4 linked regions of the Homo sapiens genome follow. The protein of the gene in region 2 purifies or fractionates together with the protein of the main gene of each other region. This does not show direct contact. Each region holds a gene or a part of one and is shown on either strand. Other genes may lie near its edges.

The links.
Region 1: the proteins of RITA1 (region 2) and PPP3CC purify together in Homo sapiens (affinity purification with mass spectrometry; one large-scale study listed by BioGRID and IntAct). This does not show direct contact.
Region 3: the proteins of RITA1 (region 2) and PSMB7 purify together in Homo sapiens (affinity purification with mass spectrometry, with the first as the bait; one study listed by BioGRID). This does not show direct contact.
Region 4: the proteins of RITA1 (region 2) and COLGALT2 purify together in Homo sapiens (affinity purification with mass spectrometry; one large-scale study listed by BioGRID and IntAct). This does not show direct contact.

The regions. Positions count from the first base shown.
Region 1 is NC_000008.11:22,524,489-22,528,404, reverse strand, and holds part of PPP3CC (serine/threonine-protein phosphatase 2B catalytic subunit gamma isoform), read right to left. Parts: intron 1,014-3,916; coding exon 888-1,013; intron 1-887. UniProt on the Homo sapiens protein: Calcium-dependent, calmodulin-stimulated protein phosphatase which plays an essential role in the transduction of intracellular Ca(2+)-mediated signals. Dephosphorylates and activates transcription factor NFATC1.
Region 2 is NC_000012.12:113,187,892-113,193,825, reverse strand, and holds the end of RITA1 (RBPJ-interacting and tubulin-associated protein 1), read right to left. Parts: intron 2,517-5,934; coding exon 2,009-2,516; 3' UTR 1,458-2,008; downstream 1-1,457. UniProt on the Homo sapiens protein: Tubulin-binding protein that acts as a negative regulator of Notch signaling pathway.
Region 3 is NC_000009.12:124,405,116-124,409,031, forward strand, and holds part of PSMB7 (proteasome subunit beta type-7 precursor), read right to left. Parts: intron 318-3,916; coding exon 202-317; intron 1-201. UniProt on the Homo sapiens protein: Component of the 20S core proteasome complex involved in the proteolytic degradation of most intracellular proteins. This complex plays numerous essential roles within the cell by associating with different regulatory particles.
Region 4 is NC_000001.11:183,974,902-183,978,817, forward strand, and holds part of COLGALT2 (procollagen galactosyltransferase 2), read right to left. Parts: intron 3,620-3,916; coding exon 3,509-3,619; intron 314-3,508; coding exon 196-313; intron 1-195. UniProt on the Homo sapiens protein: Beta-galactosyltransferase that transfers beta-galactose to hydroxylysine residues of collagen.

The sequences.
Region 1 (3,916 bases), on a different chromosome or scaffold from region 2:
CAAAAATTATTTATCATTATGTTAGTAAGAATAGCTATAAAAAGTAGCATAAATGTAAACTTTCAGGTTTAAAAAGAATTTGGGTAGATTACTTGCTCCAGTAAAAGTCTGGAGTCTTTGAAGATCTATTGCCTAATTACTTGATTTTACCGGATTGCTGTTCAGAGCTTCTTCCCACACTGATACACACGTGAGAAAATTTTTTTCCCACTTTACAAAGTTAAGCCAACAGGCCTACGTCCAACAGGCTTAGCTAATTTGAGTAGCTGTACAAATAAAATTGTAAGGACAATAAATTCTGTTTAAATCTCTTCAGTACTGAAGAAATCTGAGGGAATGACAAGTAACTATGTTATTTTAACATCTTGATCATAGTAGGTCAGCTACTTTAAATTGATATTTACAATAAAAAAACCATAATATATTAAAATTTAAGAACCAATTACATGCCATTTACAAATCTATGTAGAGGCTGGGCACGGTGGCTCACACCTGTAATCCCAGCACTTTGGGAGGCTGAGGAGGGCGGATCACTTAAGGTCAGGAGTTTGAGACCAGCCTGGCCAATATGGTGAAACCCTGTCTCTACTAAAATGCAAAAATTAGCCGGGTGCAGTGGCACGTGCCTATAATCCCAGCTCCTCAGAAGGCTGAGGCAGGAGAATTGCTTGAACCTGGGAGGCGGAGGTTGTAGTTAGCTGAGATCGTGCCACTGCACTCCAGCCTGGGTGACAGAGCGAGACTCCATCTCAGAAAAAAAAAAAAAAAATCTATGTAGAGAACAAACAAAATTAGAAAACATTTCTGAATCATGGAGGGGCTCATGCAAATATAAGGTATGCTCAGTCACCAAACAACTGATGAGACATGTGCTTTAGTTCTCTTACCTTTTTCCCCAACAAAAGGCAAAGACCATGTGAAAACATCCATAAAGTTTGGAAGCCAGTAGGGGTGTGGAGAACAGTTAAACTGCCTGATATTCATGACATTGTTTTCATATTTCAACACAGCAGCTAAAAAGGAAAAAAGCAAGAAAATCTGGCACAGAGGAACATGGCATGGCAAGTGGTATGCTTTGTACAGCTGTGTACCTGCTACACAGAATTCGAGAACTTTCCATTTGTAAAGTCAGGACTTGACTAGGTAAAGGGCAGATGGAAAATTTTAAAGCCTTTTATTCAGTTCATTCTCTTAAGAATTATTCCAAGGAACAAAGTTACCTGAAGAGCTCATATAATAAAAGTACAAAAGAAACTGAAACTTTGGAGTCACTGCACAGTAACTATCTATATAAACCTCAAGATCCACGTGAGGAAAATTTCCCCATAATTTCCTTTTATAGGCCAAATGGTTATAATTACAACTCTCCTTTGAAGGCAAAAATTACTCATTAAATGGACACAGCCTGTTTTGCTAGTCATTAGCCAGAGTCAAAGATTGTATACACTCTCTGGGAGTTTATATATTGCAGTTATCAACTCATACTGGAAGATACAAATGGCAAACTTGGAGCAATTTACAATTAAATGTTCAAAATTAGATTAAGTCATCTCTGTATTCAATATAGCGGATTTTAAAATTGCCGATTTCTCCAATACACAGCAGTGTATTGCCAGCATGCTATGTTTAATATTAACCATTCAGATAGTCGCACACATACTTTGATGCCAAACTGATTTTCTTTATATTTTGAAAGTCTTAAAATCCAATTCCTTAGCCTTTATCACCAGCAATGTTGTTTGCACTATTCTCTTAATTATTCTGTGGTCATAAAATAAAACAGGGTGTAACAGTTCTCCAGAAATGACAGATATAGGTCACGTCCTCATTCCTGTTTCTTTGCTACAGGATAATCTAGTGTTCTTAAAATTTAAGTTATTGAATGTCTAAAATGTACACCATATATTATTAAGAAAATAAATTAAAATATAGTTTCTAGCACTTAAAAAGCCTAACACTGGCTATGATGTACATGTTCCATTATTTTCACGTGTATGTATTTTATTTAGTTTAGGTAAATATGTCATATATCATTATTCAACAACTCCCTCAATTTCTACCCAGGAAAAAGAAGTGGGAGGTGAGTCTCAACAGTGAATGACTGGAAACAAGAGCTTATAAAACTGCTTTTGGGTGTGTTCCCAGTGGACAGAAGAAAACAAGAATAAGAATCTTTAAAAATCATGATTAAAGGTCTTTCGTGTAACTAGTGGAACTAGGAAATACCTGTAGATACCAAGAAGTCTAAAGAATATGAAAGAGCACTCCTAGCACTTTGGGAGGCCGAGGTGGGCAGATTGCCTGAGCTCAGGAGATTGAGACCAGCCTGGGCAACATGGTAAAACCCCGTCTCTACTAAAATAAAAAAAATTAGCCAGGCGTGGCGACGTGCACCTGTAGTCCCAGCTACTCGGGAGGCTGAGGCGGGAGAATTGCTTGAACCCGGGAGGCAGAGGTTGTAGTGAGCCAAGACCGCACCACTGCACTCCAGCCTGGGCAACACAGTGAGACTCTGTCTCTGAAAAAAAAAAAATAATATGAAAGAGGCCAGGTGTGGTGGCACACACTTGTAATACCAGCACTTTGGGAGGCCGAGGCAGGAGGACTGCTTAAGCTCAGGAGTTTGAGACCAGTCTGGGCAACATAACGAGACCCTATCTCTATAAAAAATATTTTAAAATTAGCCAGGTGTAGCGGCATGCACCTGTGGTCCCAGCTAGTTGGGAGGCTGAGGTGGGAGGATCACTTGAGCCCAGGAAGTCGAGGCTGCAGTGAATCAAGTTCCTGCCACTGTGCTCCAACCTAAGTGACAGAGACCGAGAGAAAGAGAGAGAGAGAGAAAGAAAGAGAGAGAGAGAGAGGGAGAGAAAGAAAGAAAGAAAGAAAGAAAGAAAGAAAGAAAGAAAGAAAGAAGAAAAGGAAGCAGAAAGAAAAAGAAAGAAAAGAAAGAGAGAGAGAAAGAGAGAGAAAAGAAAAGAGAGAAAGAGAAAGAAGAGCAACAGTAGAAGAAAAGGAAGAAGAAAAAGAATAATAGAGTTCCCTTTTTCAGAAAAGAAGGCACTTGTATGGGGAGTAACTGAGTACCCCCAGGGACTGTTTCAAATGCCACATTTTCTGCCTTTTTCCTTCTAAAATGCCTAAGAAACAACCAATGAAAATAAGACTGTTTTGAGATAAAAGTTACTAATTATGTCAAAGCCGACAGAATACTCAGGTAGAATGAACTGTGGCTTTTACTTTTTTTTTTATTTTTTAGAGACAGGGTCTTGCTCTATTGCCTGGCTGGAATGCAGTGGTGTGATCACAGCTCACTGCAGCCTCGAACTACTGGACTCAAAGGATCCTACTGCCTCAGCCTCCTGAGTAGCTAGGACTATAGGCATGCTCCACCTTGCCTGGCTAACTTTTAAATTTTTCTTTGTAAAGATGGGGTCACATTTTGCTGCCCAGGCTGGTCTTGAATTCTAGGCCTCAAGTGATCCTCCCCTTGGCCTCCCAAAGTGCTGAGATTACAGGCATGAGCCACTGTGCCTGGCCAGGACTGTGATGTTAAAAGTTTGCTAAAGAAATAATCAAGAACAAAACCAGGTTAGATTGAGACAAAAAACAAGCTAGCAGTGAGTGAGCTGTATAGTGCCTGCTGACTTAGGTGGCGTGTTTCAGCTTGGCACACTGATAAATCCATTGAGCAATCAATAGATACTCTTTTTGATGAAGTTAAAAAAGAAAGTGAGAAAGAAACACCTTCATTACAAATAGGAGATCTAGGGCCACAAGAGTCCTTGAAGACGTTTAACAACACAAACAGTCCACACCATTGATAAGAGAATAAATAAGAATAAAACCTAAGTTGCTAATATACTGGAAATATCAGGAAAAAGGAAATAACAAATGAACTTAGGGAGAAGCAGAGCAT
Region 2 (5,934 bases):
AAGCTTAAACATTCTATATGTTTAAAATGCACATTGCAGCTGGGCGAGGTGGCTCACACCTGTAATCTCAGCACTTTGGGAGGCTGAAGCGGGAGGATCACTTCAGGCCAGGAGTTTGAGACCAGCCTGTACAACATAGTGAGACTCATGTCTCTTTTTTTTCCCTTTTTTTCTTGTTTCTTACTGGAAGGAATGAAATCCCTCTCTATAAATTTTTTTTTTTTTTTTTGAGACAGAGTCTCGCTCTGTTGCCCAGGCTGGAGTGCAGTGGCACGATCTCGGCTCACTGCAAGCTCCGCCTCCTGGGTTCACGCCATTCTCCTGCCTCAGCCTCCCATGTAGCTGGGACTACAGGCGCCTGCCACCGCGCCCGGCTAATTTTTTGTATTTTTAGTAGAGACAGGGTTTCACTGTGTTAGCCAGGATGGTCTCGATCTCCTGACCTCGTGATCCGCCCGCCTCGGCCTCCTAAAGTGCTGGGATTACAGGCATGAACCACCGCGCCCAGTCCAAAAAAATTTTTAAAAGAAGTTAGCCAGGCATGGTGGTGCATGCATGTAGTCCCCGCCACTCAGGAGGCTGAGGGGGAGGATGGCTTGAGCCGGGAGGTCAAGTCAGCAGTGAGCTATGATCGCACCACTGCACTCCAGGGTGGGCAAGGAAACGAGGCCCCGTGTCTTAAAAAACAAAACAAAACAAAAAAAAGAAACACCAAAAACAAACAAACATACAAACAAACAAACAAAAAACAAAGCATGTTTGCATGAGAGCACAGCTGGCCTGCCTGACCCCACAGGTGTTTCTGTGTGTCACTGGTCCTGGGCACTGCAGGTCTCCCTCCCCAGCAGTGTCCACTCTTCCCTGCCCCAAGGCAGACGTACCAACCAGATGATGTGGCTTCCAACTGGACTCCCTAAAATCCTGGTGCCTCCTGGAGGTGCCTTACAGGAAGACGGGGGCAAGGAGAGGCCCAGAGCCCAGCCCACACTGCCCAATCTGGGTGCAATTCCATCTGCGCAAAGGCTTTGTTGCTTTTCCTAAGTCCTGGGCTGCATCCTAAGTGCTCTGCAGACACACATGTCACTGTCTGGCTTTCTTGGACCCTCCACTTGGCAAAGTCCTAGCCATTGTGTTTTATTTCCCACCTTAACACACACACACACACACACACACACACACAAACAAACTTAAAAACAAAACTAAAAAAATACTATTGTCTGTACTCTGAGCTAAGGAAGAGCCGGCCAACCACAAGTTAGTGGCATTAGCCAGAAGCCGACGGGAGGAAGAGTCCAGCGCTTCCCGAAGCCCCAGATTCCCAAACTTCAGTTACCCACTCACCGCTGTCATGTTGCCTGCCACATCCTTGTACTATCTGTTGTATTTAACTTTGTTATTTAAATCAACTCAGGCCTAACAATGGCCTTTACCCTGAGGGGGAAAAAAAGTGACATTCATGGCTTTGATGAGCTGATCTATTTAGTACATGAAAATAAATTCAGAAGCATATTAAGATGAAACAGTGTTCACTCACAAATCTCCCAGTTGCCGTTGTGTTCCCCAGGCTTCACAGACAGCCTGGAAAAACTCCTCTAGGGCTTGCAGACTTAGCTGGAAACTAATCCTGAGCAGGAAGCTTGGCTTGAAGGGATAAGAGGGGACCCTCCAGGTTGGCAATCACGCCGTTTATTCGCACTTGGCAGCAAGACAATGGATGATGTGGGAGGTGCCAGGCCCCTGGGTTGGCACTAATTTGGAGTATGGTTGAGACAGGGCTGGAGAGAGGCATCTTAGAGGTGGCCCCCAAATCCGCAATCGGGAGAAAAAGGCAAGAATCGACTAGAGATTGTCAGGATAAAGGGAGGCACTGCCCACCCCTGCTATGTCTGTCTGCCCCCACAGGGGCTTCTTTAATACCTGGGGTTCCCTGGGTGATGAATGTCCTCCTACCCTGGCAAGGGGCCATACCTGTCGCCGTGGCCCCATAGGCAACCCTGATGAAAGAGTATCATTTCCAAGGGGGCTTTGGTTTCTGGGTGGCCCCACCTCGTCGTGGGGTAGATGGCACTGAAATGCTAACTGAGCGAGCCCTGGAAGTCACCAGGGGGCTCCGGAAGGTCACCCCTGACGTGGAAGGCCTGAGATCCTGAGGCCCATTTGTGTGGGGGGCACTGGTGGCTGGATGACCAGTGCTGGGGACATTCAGGTGGGTGAGGGAATGGGAAAGTCCCCGCTTCAGGGGGCGTGAAGAGTGTAACCCACCCATAGATAACTTCTGGGAGTCTGCCGCTGGCCCCGGCTCTGTCTTGGAGGGACCAGCTGGGTGAATGGCTCGCAGTGGTGCCTCCCTGGGGCGGGGCGAGTGGCTACCCCTGGGGGTAGGTGGTGGCGTCCACAAGAGAGCACGGAGCTTTGCGGCATCCCCCTTCGCCATCCGCGGGGCCCCGAAGCTGGCGCCTTCAGATCGGGAGCCAAACAGCGACTCATCACAGTAAGACGGGGTGTGGCTGATGGGTCTGGCAAATGGAAGATAAACGCCATGAGCTGGGGGATGAACAACCCCTCAAAACTTTAACAGCTCTCCCACCCACCCTGGGATGGCAGCAGCAGAGGAGGGTTGCCTGCAGATCCCAGGAGTCCTTGTCTCCCAGTCTGAAACCTACAGCGAGGCCACAGCCTCTTAAGCACCACTGCCCCCGGTCTCTGCTGATTTTCCCTGCGAAACATCCACTGCCCCTGCATCCTGACCCCATTCCCAGACATGTGCCCCAGGCCTGGACAATTTGCATATTCCATCCTCCTGGCCACATGGATTGGTTCACGAATGGCCAGATGACCCAAGCCTGTCCAATCAGAATCTGCCTTAGGACCTTGCAGAAACCACTAGGAAAGAGATGTCTTTCTGCCACCTGACTTTACTTCTTGCTAAGCTGATAGGATGTCAGCCCAAAGCAGCTTGTGGCTATCTCCTTCCTACTGAAGATTGAAGGGCATGCAGGGAAAAGCAGCACTAAGGTGGAGACAGACAGTTCCAGCCACAGTTTGAGCCCCTGTTACAGGAGCCCCACATGCCTTCTCCTGGGGAAGCCAGTTTGAATAAGTTTTCTGTCACTTGCAATTGAGAGTCACAATTAGTATAACCTTAGTCTTTATAGCCTCCACTTTTTCTTTTCTTTGTGAGACACGATCTCACTCTGTTGTTCAAGTGGAGTGTAGTGGCACAGTCACAGATCACAGCAGCCTCAAATTCCTGGGCCCAAGCAATCCTCTCACCTCAGCCTCCCTAATAGCTGGGACTACAGGCACAGTGCCACCAAGCCCAGCTAATTTTTTTGTTTTTGATTTTTAGTAGAGATCAGATTTATGTTGCTCAGGCTGGTCTTGAGTTCCTGAACTCAAGCAGCCCCCTGCCTTAACCTCTCAAAGTGTTAGGATTGCAGGAGTAAGCCACCGTGCCCATTTTCTTTTCTTTCTTTCTTTTTCTTTTTTTTTCTGAGACAGAGTCTCGCTCTGTCACCCAGGCTGGAGTGCAGTGGTGCAATCTCAGCTCACTGCAACCTCCGCCTCCTGGGTTCAAGCGATTCTCCTGCCTCAGCCTCCTGAGTAGGCGGGATTACAGGCATGTGCTACCATGCCCAGCTAATTTTTGTATTTTTAGTAGAGACGGGGGGGGTTTCACCATGTTGGCCAGGCTGGTCTTCAATTCCTGACCTCATGATCTACCCACCTCGGCCTCCCAAAGTGCTGGGATTACAGGCAAGAGTCACTGCGCCCGGCCTTTTTTTTTTTTTTTTTTAAGAGACAGGGTCTCACTCTGTCACCCAGGCTGGAGTGCAGTGACGCTCGCTGCAGCTGCGAACTCCTGAGCTCAAGTAATCCTCCCACTTCAGCCTCCAGAGTAGCTGGGACTACAGGTATGCACCACTATGCCCTGCTAATATTTTTATTTTTTGTAGAGACAGGGATCTCACTATGTTGCCCAGGCTGGTCTCAAACTCTGGAGCTCAAGCGATCCTCCCACCTCAGCCTCCCAAAGTGCTGGGACTACAGGCCTGAGTCAGCCTGTCTGGCCTTTTTTTTTTTTTTTTTTTTTATTCAACAGATATTCACGGCATACCTGCAAGATTCCACGCCCATAGTTTTTTTGGCCAGGACTGAAAGTGCTTCTATCCCCAAACTGCAAGTCTTTGAAAGGGCAAGCTTTTGCCACTTGGTTTAGCTGCTCAAACCACATTGGCTAATGCCTGTATATGTCTGGTGCCAAGGTTTTTGCTCAATAACTTCTCTACCTCTTATGCAACCCCTCACTTGACACCCTCTACCTGTTGGCATCCAGAAGAAAATTCCACCCTCCAGGTGAGCAAGGAGTTGTCACCTCCCTTTTCATGGACACCATACTTCCTAATGCAGCCTATCTTTACCTCAGTGTTTTCAGCCATGTTGTAGGTATCAGTGTTGCTAATCTCCACCTGACCCTGCCTTGTCTACAGAACTGGCAATAACTGATTCTTGTTTTTATAATAGGTATCATTCCCATTCTCATTTCATTTCTCTCATCTGAAATATGTCCCTGTGGTTCAGAATGAACCCTAACTTTAGCTGGCCAGTTCTTATGGACTGAATTGTGCCCACCCAAATTCATATGTTGAAGCCCTAACCCCAAATGTCTCTACACTTGGCCTTAATTATTTAGATTAATTAAAGGTAATTAAGGCTGGCCAGACATGGTGGCTCACATCTGTAATTCCAGCACTTTGGAAAGCAGAGGCGGGAGAACGACTTGAGCTCAGGAGTTTGAGACCAGCCTGGCCAACACAGTGAAACCCCGTCTCTACTAAAAATACAAAAATTAGCCAGGCATGGTGGCGTGCACCTGTAATGCCAGCTACTCGGGAGGCTGAGGCAGGAGAATTCCTTGAACCCGGAGGTGGAGGCTGCAGTGATCCGAGATGGTGCCACTGCACTCCAGCCTGGGCGACAGAGCCAGACTCCATCTCAAAAAAAAAAAAAAAAAAAAAAAAAAAAAAAAAAAAAAAAAGGTAACTAAGGCTAAATAACATTATAAGGGTAGGGGATCCTAATCCAATAGAACTGGTGTCCTTATGAGAGGAAGAGACATCAGGGGTGTGTGTGTATACAGAAAAGGCCCTTGCATGTAATTGAAGGATTAAAAAAAAATGAGAAAAGGCCCTATGATGACACTGTGAGAACGTGGCCAACTGCAAGCCAAGGAGAGAGGCCTCAGGAGAAACCAAACCTGCCAACACCTTGATCTTGGGCTTCCAGCCTCCAGACTGTGACAAAATAAATTTGTGTTGTGGCCAGGCGCGGTGGCTCATGCCTGTAATCCCAGCACTTCGGGAGGCCAAGGCAGGTGGATCACCTGGTCGGGAGTTCAAGATCAGCCTGACCAACATGGAGAAACCCCGTCTCTACTAAAAATACAAAATTAGCCAGGCATGGTGGCGTAATCCCAGCTACCAGGGAGGGTGAGGCAGGAGAATCGCTTGAACCTGGGAGGCAGAGGTTCAGGTTAGCTGAGATGGCTCCACTGCACTCCAGCCTGGGCAACAAGAGCAAAACTCCGTCTCAAAAAAAAAAAAAAAAAATTAAGTCAGGCATGGTGGCATGTGCCTGTAGTCCCAGCTACTCAGGAGACTGAGGCAGGAGAGTCGCTTGAACCCGGGAGGTGGAGGTTGTGGTGAGCCAAGATCGTGCCACTGCACTCCAGCCTGGGCAACAGAGCGAGACTCCATCTCAAAAAAAAAAAAAATTGTGTTGTTTAAGCCACCCAGTCTGTGGTATTTTGTCATGGTGGCCCTAGCCAACTACTGTGCTAATCTTCTGTGTCTTTGTCCAAACCACTGATAACAATAAACAGGACAGAGCCCTGTGGCTCACCACTAGACACCTCCCTCCAGGCTGATATTAATC
Region 3 (3,916 bases), on a different chromosome or scaffold from region 2:
CACTATCAGAATTGTGTTGACTGCTATATAGCAAGCACCTAGAACACGGCCTAATCTATAGTAGGAACTCAGTATATATTTGCTGAATGAATCAAAGCATTGTATTGCACCTCCTCTTCTAAGAGAAAACAGACCAGCTCTTCAAGAGACCATCGTGGTAAGTAAGAGTACTCTTAAACATCAGGAAAACGTTACACTCACCCATGGTGACATAAGGCAACTTATCAGTTGATCCATGAGGATAGATGCTGTAGAGGTGAGGTCCAGTAACATCTACTCCCCCTAAAACTAGGGCTGCACCAATGTAACCTTGATACCTGGTGATCAGAGTATGCATAAGAAAAAAAACATGAGTCCACAAAGCATCACTGTAACTTAGCCAAAAGTTGCATGAGAAGTCAGGTAACAAAAAGTTTTCCTTAAGACTGTTTCATTAAGGGGTTATTGTTTTGATGGGAACAAAAAAGGGAAGGGAACATTAGATGAACATCTACTGTCAGCCAGTATAAACTATAAATTATGTGAGGCACTCCACACACCTGATTTCAGCTCAGCCTCACAGCCCCCATTATTATTATTTTTTTGAGACAGGGTCTCACTCTGTCACCCAGGCTGCAGTACAGTGGTATTATCACGGCTCACTGCAGCCTCAACCTCCCCAGGCTCAAGCAATCCTCCCACCTCAGCCTCCTAAGTAGCTGGGACTACAGGTGTGCACCACCACACCTGGCTAATTTTTGTATTTTTTTTTGGAGAGATGGCGTCTCGCCAAATTGCCCAGGCTGGTCTCAAACTCCTGGACTCAAGCAATCCTCCCACCTTGGCCTCCCAAAGTGCTGGGATTACAGGTGTGAGCCACCACACCCAGCCCACAGTCCCCTTTAAAAGACAACATTATCATTCCCATTTTAGAAAAGAAAAAACCAACCCAGAGACATTAAGAACTTGCCCGGTCTCAGAACCAAATTGGACTGACTCCAAAGATTATCAGCACTTTTCCCATCACACCTCTCTGTGATCAGCACATAAGCTACCTCCACAGTTAACAATGAGGAGGTGCTAAGCTCAGCTGTTCCACTGTTCAAATTATCAACCTGGCCACAAAGGCCAGGCATGGTGGCTCACACCTATAATCCCAGCACTTTAGGAGGCTGAGGTGGGCAAATCACTTGAGTCCAGGAGTTCAAGACCAGCCTGGGCAATATGGCGAGACCCTGTCTACAAAAAATACAAAAAATTAGCAAGGCATGGTGGCATGTACCTGTAGTCCCAGATACTTGGGAGGCTAAGGTGAGAGGATCCCTTGAGCCTGGGAGGCAGAGGTTGCAGTGAGCCATGTACACGCCACTGCACTCCAGCCAGGACAGAGCAAGAGTTGTCTCAAAAAAAAAAAAAAAAAAAAAAAGTATCAACCTCACCACAGCCCAAACAGAAAAATGGCTCATGTCGAAACACCTCTGCCTTTGAATTAACCCATATTATAATTACATATATGAACTCGTATCAAAAAAAAAGTATTTCATCATTCAGGAAAGTGAATATTAAAATAACTCCATGATAGCCTAAGAAACCACTGCTACTACACATAGGATAAACTTACACTTCCTCAGGAACATCACAGGAATATATTTTCCACCCACACCATCTCCACTTAATTGTGCACATATTTGTTCCTTTGGACCCTTTTTTTCCATTTCTATAGATTCCTTTCCCTGTATTTGGTACAGCTTTTTAACATTAGGAGGCCAATGTTACTCCTAACGTGGGAGGCTGAGGCATGAGAATCGCTTGAACCTGGGTGGCCGAGGTTGCACTGAGCCGAGGTCGCATCACTGCACTCCAGCCTGGGCAACAGAGTGACACTTAGTCTCAAAAAATAAAAAATAAAAAAAATCAAAAGAAGAATTAGATCTACATTTGTCAACATAAATTGCTCTCAATTTATCTAGCTGTGCTAGATAAACATGCTGGATTTAAAGTTCTCCACTGTGAGCCTTTAGCTCTTTGGGAAGGAAAACAAAACTGACACATACTGAATTTGCCAAACGATGTAATCATTAAAATACAAATAAATTAACATGAGAACCAAAGTCATAACTTTAGACTGTCTGAGACATGGCCACACATCCAGAAGTGCTCTAAGTAAACAGAACAGTGGTCCAATACTTGCCCTGTTCCTTGATTACCAAATTGTTATTTCATTTGTAAGTAAAAACTTCAAAAACTTCCTAGGAAAAGATTTTAGCAGTAGCCTAAAAAGAGAATAGAGCCCCAGACAAGGGAAGAAACTGGTCCAAGGCCCCACGTGTGAGCTAGCAGCAGGGTCAGACTAGGGCCAAGGGCTCCAGGAAGAGAAGCCACAATCGCCAGTCCCACCACCCCCAACTAGTCCAGTGCCTATTCCACTATGCCAACTGTCTACTGAACAGGGTGTTTAAATAAAGTTAATAATAATCAGCTACTTGCCTTCTAAGCTAAAATATCAACTGTTAGATGCCTTTAAAATAATCAAGATGTTTTGGCAAATTATTGAAGTCATTAAAATTTTAATAATTTATTGATCCACAAATTCTACTACCAGGACTCTATTCTAAGGATATAAACAGACAAATGTACAGAAATGAATGCACAAGGATGTTTACAACAGCATTGTTTATGATGATTAAAAAAGTGGAAACAGCCAGGGAGAAATGGCTAAACTGATCCAACTGTACAACAGAACATCACCCAATCATTAAAAATCATGCTAAGCCGAGTGTGGTGGCTCACACCTGTAATCCCAAAACCTAGGGAGGTCATGGTAGGAGGATTACTTGAGGCCAGGAGTTTGAGACCAGCCTAAGCAACATAGTGAGACATCGTCTACAAAAAGTTTAAAAAAACAAACACAACAAAAAATTAGACAAACATGGTGGCGTGGGCCTTTAGTCCCAGCTACTCAGGAGGCTGAGGCGAGCAGATGACTTGAGCCTAGAATTTTAAGGCTCAAGTCATCCACCATGCACTGCCTTTAAGTGAGCCATGATCATGCCACTGCACTCCAGCCTGGGCAACAGAAAGAGACCCTATCTAAACTAAAATAAAATTTAACAACCATGCTGCATTTTCTCCTGCGCTACTGACGGTAGTACAACGTTTGTCAAGGGAGAGCTTTGACAACATCTTTCAAAATGTTAAATGTGCAAAACTAAATAAATGTGCATTTATTCTAGAATACAGGCTAAGGAATTAAATCACATGAGTACCCAAGGCTTCTATGTTCCAAAGGTTCGTAGAATACCTAATAATACCTTAAATACCTTAAAATGGGCAATATCATTAATGTTTAAAAATTGGTTAAGTTGTAACATAGCCACAAAACGGATACTATGACACCACCAAAAATTATGATAATGATTAATGGTTCTTAAGCTTTTATGGGTCAGAGAGCCCTCTTAAAAATTGATTAAAATTGTGGAAATTTTCCCCCATAAGAGTACACACAAACATTTTTTCTGATTTCAGGAGAGTTACAAGTATTCAGAACTTCTCTATGGGCTCAAGAGAAAAACTCATCTACTGACAGGAACAATATTTGTAACATACCATTATGTAAACAAGGGAAATTACAAAACAACACATACAAGGATATATATCTAGAACAAAAGGTATGAAAAAACAGATCTTCAAAAATTTACAGTGTATGTGTCTAAGTGGCAGAACATCAGGTGGCATTTACTTCCTTCTATCCAGGTTTCTAGTGTCTACGTTTTTTACAATTATATTATTTTTATAATTTTAAAAAGTTATTTTCATTTTGAAATGCCCTAGTATAGAACCCATTCAAGATGCACTGTTAGGTGAGAAGACTAGGCTATACTACAGTCAGTACAACTATAATCCCATTTTCTAAATATTACTGAACTTATTTTTAAAA
Region 4 (3,916 bases), on a different chromosome or scaffold from region 2:
GTGGGCCTGAAGATGAAGTCCAGGTAGCCCAATTTTAAACTACCAAAAATTTCATTGTGCCTTTCTTAAAAAGTGGGGGAGGCACTGCCTAATCAAAAAGGTTGTTTTGATTGCTTCCATGGTTCTAGTTTTTGGACGACTGATTTGGATACACCTGAGATGACAGTTGTCAAGAAATCAAACATCTGTTTTTACCAGAATGTAGTCTGACCATTTTTCCCTCGCAGTTCGAAGGGCTGCCTGTCGTAGTTTCATCACATGGGCAAACCGGGAGGTTGGCCAGTGCTTTGGTCCAATTTCATCAGGGTAAGACCTAAAATAATAATAATAGCTCATCATTATTGAGTGCCTACATGTACCAGGCTCTGTCCTAAATGTTTATATGTATTCATTTAATCTTCTATCAATCCCAGGAAGTAGATACTATTATTATTGTTATCATCATCCCCATATTACAGATGAGGAAACCGGAGCAATGAGAAGTCAAGTAACTCACTGCTCATTGTATACAAGAATCTTTACATGAAATATTTCAGTGGGTTCTAATGAGAGCCCTTTGAGGTGAGTACTGCTATTCTCTGCATTTCACAGGTGAGGATATCAGGGTAGAGCAGTTAAGTCATTCGTCCAATGTTACACAATGGGGCACAATCAAGATTTGAATCCAAGCAAAAAGCTCATGTTCCTAGACAATTTTTATACATCCCGACATCGAATAGATTTGGAGAGTATGCAGTGTAAAACATGAGTTTCCCAGGAAAATCAAAGGTTTAATCTACTTGTTGGAGTCTCCACAAATGATTCCACACAGCCTAACACATTGATCTATCTTAGGTAAAGTGAGGTCGTGGGATCTCTATCAAGATTCACAAAACAGCCAGGCCAAGACTCCTTCATGGCCACATAGGCAAGTGGGTTGGAGCACGCTCCAAAACCCTTCTGAAGGCACCCAGCTGGCACGGACATTGATACTGTTGCAGTAACCCAAAACTGGCCACCACTTCAAGATCTCATAGCTGCACTGGCAGTACATTTGTTTTAGTGAGTGAAAAACTGCAAAAACAATGAGACTGTAACTAAACAAATAAGGTTAATAAAACTATGTACAGCACAGGAATTCTCTGGAATATCTTCCCCAGTTATTGTTTCAATGAAAATCAGTGGAATTCTCATTTTTCTAAATATATTCCCCCCAAAAATGCCTGTTCTAATATTTTTTCACACTGACCTTGGCATATAATATATTTAGTCAAAACCTGGCTGCAGAGAACATTACCAAGGTGCAAAGAAGGGACACAAAGTATTTCTGTGCCATTTTTGTTAGGCCAAACTCCATTATAAGGCACTCTAAAGGAGTGTTTACAATCTTTTACGGTGTTCAGACTTCACTGTTAAATTTTGCTTGATATACAGTCCATGGGCTTGGATTTGAGAAACACATATGTATATATTATATCATATTTATATATATTTCTTTATAATATAAATATTTATAATAATTCTTACATATAGAAAGACTAGAAGAACAGAAACTTGTTCTGGAATGGCATTTATTATTACTATAATACAAATTTGGCTTTCAATAAATGACTTCTCTGGGGAAGAAATTCAGGCAACTCCTTCATTCTATTTCTACAGTTCCTTAAAGTAAAACTGTAGTAGCTTTGGGAACATTTATAATAGTAAGTTTTAAATACATTTATTCTTGTTCTTATTTGTTCATCCAACCAGTATTAATTTAGTGCCTGCCAAGAACATGGCTCTGAGGGGAGAGGGGGAATATAAAGTGTTTATATATTCTAGCCCCTGCCAAAGAACTTACAACTTATTTAGAAAAAAAATACATTAATTGCATAGGGGGAAAATGTTGGTTGCGTATATCATTGTGCCAAAAAGGATGACATAGAATATAAGCAATACAATTGTTGAGACAAAGGTAGATATTTATAACTGAGTGATTAAGAATAGGTTTCTATAGTAGGCATGATTTAGGATAAGAATTAGTTATAAAGAAGGAAAGGGTCTTCCAGGACCTGCACAAGCAACAGTGTGGGGTTTGGAAATAAAAGAAACGTTCTGGATAAAGCACATTTTCTTTTGGTGCTAAATTCATGGAATTTTAAAAATATAAGTCTTAGGTGTTTGAACTTTGTTCAGGTCCTAAAGAGTAAGTGAAGTATTTTTAATAAAGAAATGAAACCATTTCATTTGTATTTGAGGTAGATTGATTTGACTGTATGGTATGTAGGATGACTTGGAGATAGAAGCAATTAATAAATTGCTATGGTGGCCGGGCACGGTGGCTCACACCTGTAATCTCAGCACTTTGGGAGGTCAAGGCGGGCAGATCACAGGGTCAGGAGATCGAGACCATCCTGGCTAACATAGTGAAATCCCCTCTCTACTCAAAATACAAAAAAATAGCTGGGTGTGGTGGCACACACCTGTAGTCCCAGCTACTCGGGAGGCTGAGGCAGGAGAATTGCTTGAACCCAGGAGGCGGAGGTTGCAGTGAGCCAAGATTGCACCACTGCACTCCAGCCTGGGTGACATAGCAAGACTCTGTCTCAAAAAAAAAAAAAAAGAAAGAAATTGTTATGGTAACCAGGCACAAAGGCTCACACCTGTAATCCCAGCACTTTGGAAGGCCAAGGTGGGAGGATCGCTTGAGGCCAGGAGTTCAAGACCAGCCTGGACAACATGGTGAGATCATGTCTCTACAAAAAATAAAAATAAAATTAGCCAGGCATAGTGGTGCATGGCTGTGGTCTTAGCTACTCAGGAGGTTGAGTGAGGAGTATTGCCTGAACCCAGGAGTACGAGGTTACAGTGGAGCTATGGTCATGCCACTGTACTCCAGCTGGGGTGACAGAGTGAGACCCTGTCTTGAAAGAAAGAAGGAAAGAGAGAAAGAGAGAGAGAGAGAGAGAGAGAAAGAAGAGAAGAGAAGCGAAGAAAAGAAAAGAAAGAAAAGAAGGAAAAGAAAGAAAGAAGGAATTTCTATGGTTAAGATAGGAAATTACCTAAATGAGCATCAGTAGGGGATCAATTAAATAATTATGGTAAATGCACATACAACAGTGATTATGCAGTAAAAAAAATGAAAATTAGCTCCTTAACTATTGCTATAGAATGATTATCAAGATAAAAGTTGAAAAAAGCAAGCTCTATGTAGAAAGTATACACATTTTCAATATGATCCTCCAAATATAAAAGTTTGTTTAAAATATGAATAAATAATATCAATATTTAAAAATATAAACTGTCATGGCAATTTATTTATGAAGTAATGAAAATCTGAACTTGGCTGGCAGCTGTGGGAGTAAACAGCAAGAGAGTACTGTGAAGATCTCTAAAAGGGAGAAATGGCAGATATTCAGAACTCACATAGCTACAGAAATGAAAGACAATGAAAAGTCACATGTACCTCCAAACCTGGAAGCCCTAAAGAGCTAGTTAAAGAGGAAGGGTAAATAATGAGTTTACAAATTTCGCACTTGCTACTCACTCTGGTTCATCCATAGGCCTCCACTCCACATAGTGATAGAGTCTCTGTACATTTTTCAACCACTCCCTGAATATTTCTGTTGTATTATCCACATTGTGATCAGTGGCTGCCCTGCATGAGAGAAAGCACAATATAGTTTAACTATGTCATCCAATGAAAGAGAGGGAAATCCAAAAGACCCCTGACTAACTGAAAGAAGAATGGCTACTCCTGGAAAAAAAATTGTATATATGAAAATAATTCCCTCATAGTCCAAACTAGACAATAAATTTCCAAAGTGAGAGACACTGCTTAAAATCATCTTTGTGTCATTAGATCCTAAAACAGGGCTCAGCCAATTGGAGAACGTGTAAATGGTTGCATTAATAAATAAACACATGAAAACACCAAGAGAGTGTAAGCATAAAA